2 separate regions of the Homo sapiens genome follow, and region 1 is linked to region 2. Evidence: fine-mapped expression QTL. A gene starts in region 2. The other region holds a variant in brackets. All regions are shown on one strand. Distances are between the middles of the regions. Region 1 has its middle 28 kb from the start of MIA2. Region 2 holds the start of TRAPPC6B (trafficking protein particle complex subunit 6B).

Evidence for each region. PIP is the estimated chance that this variant, and not a neighbour inherited with it, causes the effect. A credible set is the group of variants that fine-mapping cannot tell apart.
Region 1: its variant is the best candidate, but not a certain one, in a credible set for the expression of TRAPPC6B in whole blood (INTERVAL, PIP 0.88).

Annotation. Positions count from the first base shown.
Region 1 is chr14:39,204,011-39,208,397 of GRCh38, forward strand. It overlaps the pseudogene LOC100313942. Among named protein-coding and RNA genes, the nearest start is that of MIA2, 28 kb to the right of the region's middle. RefSeq lists enhancers at 1-252, 1-931, 253-1,020. The variant G/A (reference allele first, on the strand shown) is at 2,053.
Region 2 is chr14:39,167,752-39,172,138 of GRCh38, forward strand. It overlaps TRAPPC6B (trafficking protein particle complex subunit 6B), which reads right to left and starts at 2,582. Exons shown (of 6, transcript NM_001079537.2): 1 at 2,264-2,582. The coding sequence starts at 2,344. RefSeq lists enhancers at 2,040-2,629, 2,389-2,438, 3,220-3,809.

The DNA.
Region 1 (4,387 bases), 36 kb after region 2:
AGGGGGTGCATGGTGGGTGTGGGACCAGCTCTTTAGTTTGTGTGGGAGGTGGATGAGGCCTGTGACTGCCAGCTTTCCCCCACTTCCCTGACAACCTGCATGACTCAGCAGAGGCATCTATAATCCTCCTAGGTACACAACTCCATTGACCTGGGAACCTTACCCCATCCCCCACAGCAGCCACAGCAAGACCCGCCCAAGGATAGTCTGAGCTCAGACATGCCTAGCCCTGCCCCCACCTGATGGGCCTTCCTTATCCACTCTGGTAGCTGAAGACAAAGGGCATATAATCTTGGGACTTCAAGGGCCCCACCCACCACTGGTTCCTCTCCATACTACCATAGTTGATGCTCTCTGGAAAGCATCACCTCCCAGCAGGAGGCCAACTAGCACAAAAATAGAGCATTTAAACCACCAAAGCTAAGAACCCTCACAGAGCCCATTGCGCTCCCCTGCCACCTCCACCAGAACAGGTGCTGGTATCCATGTCTGAGAGATCCATAGACAGTTCACATCACAGGGCTCTGTGCAGACAACTCCCAGTACCAGCCCAGAGCTGGGTAGACGTGCTGGGTGGCTCGATCCAGAAGAAAGACAACAATCACTGCAGTCTGGCTCACAGGAAGCCACATCCATAGGAAAAGGGAAGACTCAAGGGACAAAAGAATCTGAACAACAGCCTTCAGCCTTAGACCCTCCCTCTGATAGAGCCTATCCAAATGAGAAGGAACCAGAAAACCAACTCTGGTAATATGACAAAAAAAGGCTCTGTAACACCCCCCAAATAATCACAGTAGCTCACCAGCAGTAGAACCAAACCAAGAAGAGATCCCCGATTTACCTGAAAAAGAATACAGGAGGTTAGTTATTAAGCTAATCAGGGAGGCACCAGAGAATGGTGAAGCCCAGCACAAAGAAATCCAAAAAACAATACAAGAAGTGAAGAGAGAAATATTCAGGAAAATAGATAGCATAAAGAAAAAACAATCAAAACTTCAGGAAACACTGGACACACTTATAGAAATGCAAAATGCTCTGGAAAGTCTCAGCAGTAGAATTGAACAAGTAGAAGAAAGAAATTCAGAGCTCGAAGACAAGGTCTAACAAAGACAAAGAAAAAAGAATAAGAAAATATGAGTCTGGGCAGGGTGGCTCACGCCTGTAATGCCAGCACTTTGGGAGGCTGAGGCGGGCGGATCACGAGGTCAGGAGATTGAGACCAGCCTTGCCAACAGGGTGAAACCCCATCTCTACTAAAGACACAAAAATTAGCTGAGTGTGGTGGTGCCTGCCTGTAATCCCAGCTACTCAGGAGGCTGAGGCAGGAGAATCGTTTGAACAAGGGTGTCGGAGGTTGCAGTGAGCCGAGATGGTGCCATTGCACTCCAGCCTGGCGACAGAGCGAGACTCCATCTAAAAAAAAAAGAAAGAAAGAAAATATGAACAAAGCCTCCAAGAAGCCTGGGATTGTGTTAAATTACCAAACCTAAGAATAATTGGTGTTTTGAGACTAGCCTGGCCAACATGGTGAAACCCTGTCTCTACTAAAAGTACAAAAAATTAGCCGGGCATGGTGGCATGTGCCTGTAGTCCCCGCTACTCAGGAGGCTAAGGTAGGAGGATCGCTTGAACCCAGGAGGCAGAGGTTGCAGTGAGCTGAGATTGTGCCACTGCACACCAGCCTGGGCAACAGAGTGAGACTCTGTCTCAAAAAAAAAAAAAAGAAAAAGAAAAAAAAAGGAATAATCAGTGTTCCTGAAAAAGAGAATTCTAAAAGCTTGGAAAACATATTTGGGGGAATAATTGAGGAAAAGTTCCCCAAACTTGCTAGAGACCTAGACATCCAAAAACAAGAAGCACAAAGAACACCTAAGAAATTCATCACAAAAAGGTCATCACCTAGGCACATTGTCATCAGGTTGTCATCAGGTTATCTAGAGTTAAGATGAAGGAAAGAATCTTAAAAGCTGTGATACAGAAGCACCTATAAAGGAAAACCTATCAGATTCACAGCAGATTTCTCAGCAGAAACCCTACAAACTAGAAGGGTGT[G/A]GGGCCCTATCTTCAGCCTCCTCAAACAAAACAATTATCAGCCAAGCATTTTGTAACTAGCAAAACTAAGCATTGCATATGATAGAAGGATACAGTCTATTTCATACAAACAAATACTGAGAGAATTCACCCCTACCAAGCCACCATTACAAGAACTGCTAAAAGGAGCTCTATATCTTAAAACAGGCTGGGGGCAGTGGCTCATGCCTGTAATCCTGGGACTTTGGGAGGCCGAGGCGGGTGGATCACCTGAGGTCAGGAGTTCAAGACTAGCCTGGGCAACATGGTGAAACCACATCTCTACTAAAAATACAAAAATTAGCTAGGCGTGGTGGTGGGCCCCTGTAATCCCAGCTACTTGGGAGGCTGAGGCAGGAGAACCACCTGAACCTGGGAGGCAGAAGTTGCAGTGAGCCAAGATTGTGCCATTGCACTCCAGTCTGGGAGACAGATTGAAACTCTGTCTCAAAAAAAAAAAATCTTAAATCCTGGAAACACATCAAAACAGAACCTCTTTAAAGCATAAATCACACAGGACCTATAAAACAAAAATACAAGTTAAAAAGCAAAAACCAAAACCAAAAAACCCAAGGTACACAGGCAACAAATAGCACAATGAATGCAATGGTACCTCACATTTCAATATTAACATTGAATGTAAATGGCCTAAATGCTCCACTTAAAAGATACAGAACTGCAGAATGGATGAGAACTCACCAACCAACTATCTGCTGCCTTTAGTAGACTCACCTAACACATAAGGACTCACATAAACTTAGAGTAAAGGGATGGAAAAAGAGATTTCTTGCAAGTGGACGCCCAAAGCAAGCAGAGGTAGCTATTCTTATATCAGATAAAACAAACTTTAAAGCAACAGCAGTTAAAAGAGACAAAGAGGGACATTATATAATGGTAAAAGGCCTTGTCCAACAGGAAAATATCACAATCCTAAACATATATGCACCTAACATTGGAGCTCCCAAATTTATAAAACAATTATTAATAGACCTAAGAAATGAGATAGACAGCAACACAATAATAGTGGGGGACTTCAGTACTCCACTGACAGCACTAGACAGGTCAAGACAGAAAGTCAACAAAGAAACAATGGATTTAAACTATACCTTGGAACAAATGGACTTAACAGATATATACAGAACATTTCATCCAACAATCACAGAATACACGTTCTATTCAACAGCGCATGGAACTTTCTCCAAGATAGGCCATATGATAGGCCACAAAATGAGTCTCAATAAATTTAAGAAATTGAAATTATATCAAGTACTCTTTCAGACCACAGTGAAATAGAACTGGAAATCATCTCTAAAAGGAACCTTCAAAACCATGCAAATACATGGAAATTAAATAACCTGCTCGTGAATGAGCACTGGGTCAAAAATGAAATCAAGATGGAAATTTAAAAATTCTTCAAACTAAACGACAATAATGATACAACCTATCAAAACCTCTGGGATACAGCAAAGGCAGTGCTAAGAGGAAAGTTCATAGCCTAAAAGCTTACATCAAAAAGACTGAACAAGCACAAACTGACATTCTAAGGTCATACCTCAAGAAACTAGAGAAACAAGAACAAACCAAACCCAAACCCAGCAGAAGAAAGGAAATGATCAAGATCAGAGCAGAACTAAATGAAATTGAAACAAAAAAATTACAAAAGCTAAATGAAACAAAAAGCTGGTTATTTGAAAAGATAAATAAAATTGATAGAGCATTAACAAGCTTAACCAAGAAAAGAGGAGAGAAAATCCACCAAATAACCTCATTAAGAAATGAAACAGCAGATATTTCAACAGACACCACTAAAATACAAAAGAGCATTCAAAGCTACTATGAACACCTTTATGCACGTAAACTAGAAAACCTAGAAGAGATGGATAAATTCCTGGAAAAGTACAACCCTCCTAGCTTAAATCAGGAAGAATTAGATGTCCTGAACAGACCAATAACAAGCAGCAAGATTGAAATGTTAATTTAATAATTACCAACAAAGAAAAAGTACAGGACCAGATGGATTTACAGCAGAATTCTACCGGACATTCAAAGAATTGGTACCAATCCTTTTGACACTATTCCACAAGATAGAGAAAGAAGGAACCTTCCCTAATTCATTCTATGAAGCCAGCATCACCCTAATACCAAAATCAGGAAAGGACAAAACCAAAAAAGAAAACTACAGACTGATAACCTTGATGAACATAGATGTTAAAATCCTTAACAAAATACTAGCTAACAGAATCCAACAGCGCATAAAAAAGATAATTCACTATAATCAAGTTAGTTTCATACCAGGGATGCAGGGATGGTTTAACAT
Region 2 (4,387 bases):
TTTTAGCTTAAATGATTCAAAACTATGAACTTCCTTTCTCTTGTATGTTAGTCCATCTCTTAAAATTATCAGGCCTGAGTAGAACAGCTCTGTTCATTTTATTTAGGATTAACCCACGGGAAAAAAAAAAGATATTTTAAAAAGAAGAAAAAATATTATTCTAGACAAGAGTCAGAAAAGGGCCAGGCGCAGTGGCTTACGCTTGTAATCCCAGCACTTTGGGAGGCCAAGGCGGGCAGATCACCTGAGGTCAGAAGTTCAAGAACAGCCTGGTCAACAGGGTGAAACTCCGTCTCTACTAAAAATACAAAAAAATTAGTCAGGCATGGTGGCCGGCACCTGTAATTCCAGATACTCAGGAGGCTGAAGCAGGAGAATCGCTTGAACCCAAGAGGCGGAGGCTGCAGTGAGCTGAGATCACACCACTGCACTCCAGCCTGGGAGACAAGAACAAAACTCCATCTAAAAAAAAAAAAAAAGAGAGAGAGAGAAGAGGAAAGGTAAGAAGGGAGGGGAGAATGAAGAGAACTGAATACGCAAGTGGTTTGGGGGGATCGGGGGTTATGACAAAAAAGTAAAAGGGGTGTGTTAACTGTTCTAGAGGGAAAAGGAAGGCTAGCTTTGCACAAACAGTAAACCTTGAGGTCAATAATAAAGTCAGAAGTTTGTGACTTGAAAAAAATCTCTATTATAGATGGGTCATTTGAATAAGAATAGAATTCGCTTCATTTCCAATAACCTTCCAAATGTATCCTGCCTATCCTTCTTGTGCAAACTGGCAGTACCTTTTTTTGGATGTCATACAGGCACCTCAAAAGTTCAACCTGCCCCGAAATAACTCATTATCTTACCTCCTTATTTTTTTCTTCTCCTTTATTTCCTTTTCTGATTAATAGTACCACCATCCAACCCAGCTGCTCAAGCTGAAAACCTGACGATAATTTTCAACTCCCACTCCCATCCTTAAACAAGGCCTACAGAATTCCACTTTCTAACTTTCAAATCTGTTATCTCCTTTTCTCACTATCCCTGTCTTAATCCAGATCTTCATCTCCTCCTGCAGTGACTCCCGTAATAAAGGATTTTCCCCCTACAAGGATCTTCCCTCTCTAGCCCAAACACTGGATTACTTTTCTAAAATGCAAATGGTCCACATCATTCCCTTCCTTAAAAATATTCCCTCGAAAAGATCCGAATTCTTTAATTACACAAAGCTTTCTAACTTCACCTCTCAATTCTTCTCACTCTCTATTCAGTCTAGTCCAAAGAAATGCTTAAGTGTATTTAAATCCACCACTCTTTCATACCTCTACCACTTTATCTTTGCCTAGGATACATTTCCTATCCCCACTCTCCACTCATTTTTTATCAATAGCATTAAAGAAAGGGCTCCTGACTTGAGCATGACTTTGGAGTATTTCTAAAATCCGTTACAACTCCATGATTCTACCAGCCAATACTCAGTGTTAACTATTCATTAAATCACTATTCCCTAAATACTGTGAGGCAGGAGTATTATTTTATTTAATTTATCTAGCAGTGTCAGCAGTGACAGGCCCACAATGATTGAATAAGGACTCCCACATATTAGAAGTAACCGCTACATACTATCACATTTCGGATTAAATTAGATTAAAAAAAAATCTCTACAAGGATGGGGCCATTGTTTCATTCACTACTATATCCCTGGCACCTAGAAATCGCTCTGACATAAGGGCACTAAATAAATACTTTCTGAAATAATTAATTTAAATTATGTTCCCTAATTATCCTAACGCCTGCAAACTTTCCTTTGCAAACTCAACCTTCATTAGGCTTCAGGTCTCAAGTTGTGTGGAGTTGTACTGAGCATTAGGAATGAGGAAGGAGGGACAGGCTTCTCAGGTTGGCACAGGTCTGTCCAGTGCATGGCTCAAGTGCTGGAAGTGCCAGCAAAACTAAGTAGGCTCTGCAGTTAACCCTCTCGTAAATAATGGCAGGGACAACACTAAAAGTACCAAAATCTGTGGCGTGCAAGACAAACGTACGGGAATAGACAAAAGAGAATCAAATAGAAGAAGATACGAAAGAGAAAACGATGAAAGATGACGGTTCAAAGGAGACAACTGACAGGTTCTAGGGTTTAGGACACCTGGAGGTGGACCATTTTGTGTACACCTCGGGAGGCGTCGGGTGGCGATGGGACAGGGGTTGAAGGAAAGCACTGAGGGGAAACAAGGTGTGTCACCGCAAAAGGACCTCAAGGTTGTGTGGCAGCACTCACCACCTCCCCCTGCTCCGCGGACTTGTACACTCCAGACACCATCTCGTTATGGAGAAGCAAAAACAACGCCTCATCCGCCATTTCCTGCTAATTCTTCCAAGCTTCGAGTTTTGGCTCCCGTTTGAGCTGGTCTGGGGGTTCCAGCTCGCGCCTCAGCGACTTCGCCGGCGCCGCGGCTCCGTCAGGCCGCCATTCTATCCCTGTGGCTAAGAGACCGAGGTATTCACACGACTTCCCAAAGGCTGGTACTGAAATGAGTCTGGTACTGGAGAGAGCCCACACTTCGGGGCTACCAAATCCTAGGGCCGAACTAAAGTCTGACGGGAGCTCTAACCAAAGCCAACCAGCTGAGATGCGATCCGGCCGCTGGGCGGGGGCGAAAAAAACAACTTCCGGTCCCCTCTACCCCGGCATTCGGCCAGCTCTATGATCACTGAGTTCCTCTCTCCCAAGCCCGGAGAGGCCAGCGCCCAGATATGAGGAAGGTTCCCCTCTCACCACGATGTCGGGGGCAGAGCAAGATAAAATAAGACCTAAAGCTCCCGCCTGGCCCGGGCGCGGTGGCTCACGCCTGTAATCCCAGCACTTTGGGTGGCGGAGGCGGGTGGATCACATGAGGTCGGAAGTTCGAACCAGCCTGAGAAACCCCGTCTCTACTATAAGTACAAAATTAGCGGGGCCTGGTGGTGCATGCCTGTAATCCCAGCTACTCGGGAGTCTGAGGCAGGAGAATCGCTTGAACTCGGGAGGCGGAGGTTGCGGTGAGCTGAGATCGCGCCACTGCACTCCAGCCTGGGCAACAAGAGTGAAACTCCGTCTCAAAAAAAAAAAAAAAAAAAGAGCTCCCGCGGCCACCTCCTTGTTAATTAGCAATAGAAGTTAAAAAAATTCTTTTGGCTTCATCAAAAGCATCCACTTCCTGCCATATGTTCTTCAAATATGAAAAGTTGTAGAAAGAGTTTAAAATATACGTTTTCACAGTGCAAATTTTTTAAATATTGAAAAGTTATCCCAATTCCTATTGAATTAAGCCCGGGTATACAAAAAGAATTAGAGCCATTTTGACCACCAGGAATTTTCCTGTTAGTGGGGTGCAAGGGACAAGGGAAGTGGAGCAAACGAAAAACAAGATACACTTGAACCGGAAAATACAGACTAATCAGAGGATTAGGTGAAAAGTGCTATAGAATTCAGAAAAGCGATGTCACTGCAGGATGGAGTTGCTAATAATCTACAGCAGTGTGAGACAACTGTAGGAATTGTCCCACTGCATGTGCAAATAAATACACATGCTACATCATAGTATGTACATCTTAAATTTGGCAAATTCAACCGTAAGCATGTTGCTTAGCCTGTGATTAGTTCTTCCATTGGTAATTCACAAAACAAAATTTTTCCCCAATTGTCCCTGTTGTTTTCCCCCAAATTAACATACCGCAAGGTGGCTCATGCCTGTAAAATCCAGCACTTTGGGAGGCCGAGGCACGGGGGGTGGGGGGGATCACGAGGTCATGAGTTTTGAGAGCAGCCTGGCCAACATGGTGAAAACCCGTCTCCACTAAAAATACAAAAATTAGCCGGGCGTGGTGACAGGTGCCTGTAATCCCAGCTACTCGGGGGGCTGAGGCAGGAGAATCACTTGAACCTGGGAGGCAGAGGTTGCAGCGAGCAGAAATTGTGCCACTGCACTCCAGCCTGGGCGACAGAGCAAGACTTCGTCTCAAAAAACGAAACACACACACAAACTCTTCATGCCCTTTCACAGGAATTTAAGATCATGTTCCAAAATTTTAATTGTGGTAGGTTTTTTTTTTAAGCATGTCCCTTCTAATGTTTGAATCAGTTTATTCCATTCATCACGTAAATCCAGCATAAAAGCTCCACTTAAGCCTTTGAAAACACTAAATTGTGTAATTTTGAAGAGTATTTTGCCATGGTAATCTTAATTTTTCCAGCACTAAATTTTCAGTTATGCGAAATCAGGTCCTTTATGTCTAGATGACATTCTTGCCCTCATCACTACCATCAAGAAAAAGGAGTCCAAGTCCACCACACAAGTCAAAAAGTAAGTAAATGGCCAATTTATCAAAGTTGACTTCTCCAACCACAATAACATGAGGCTTT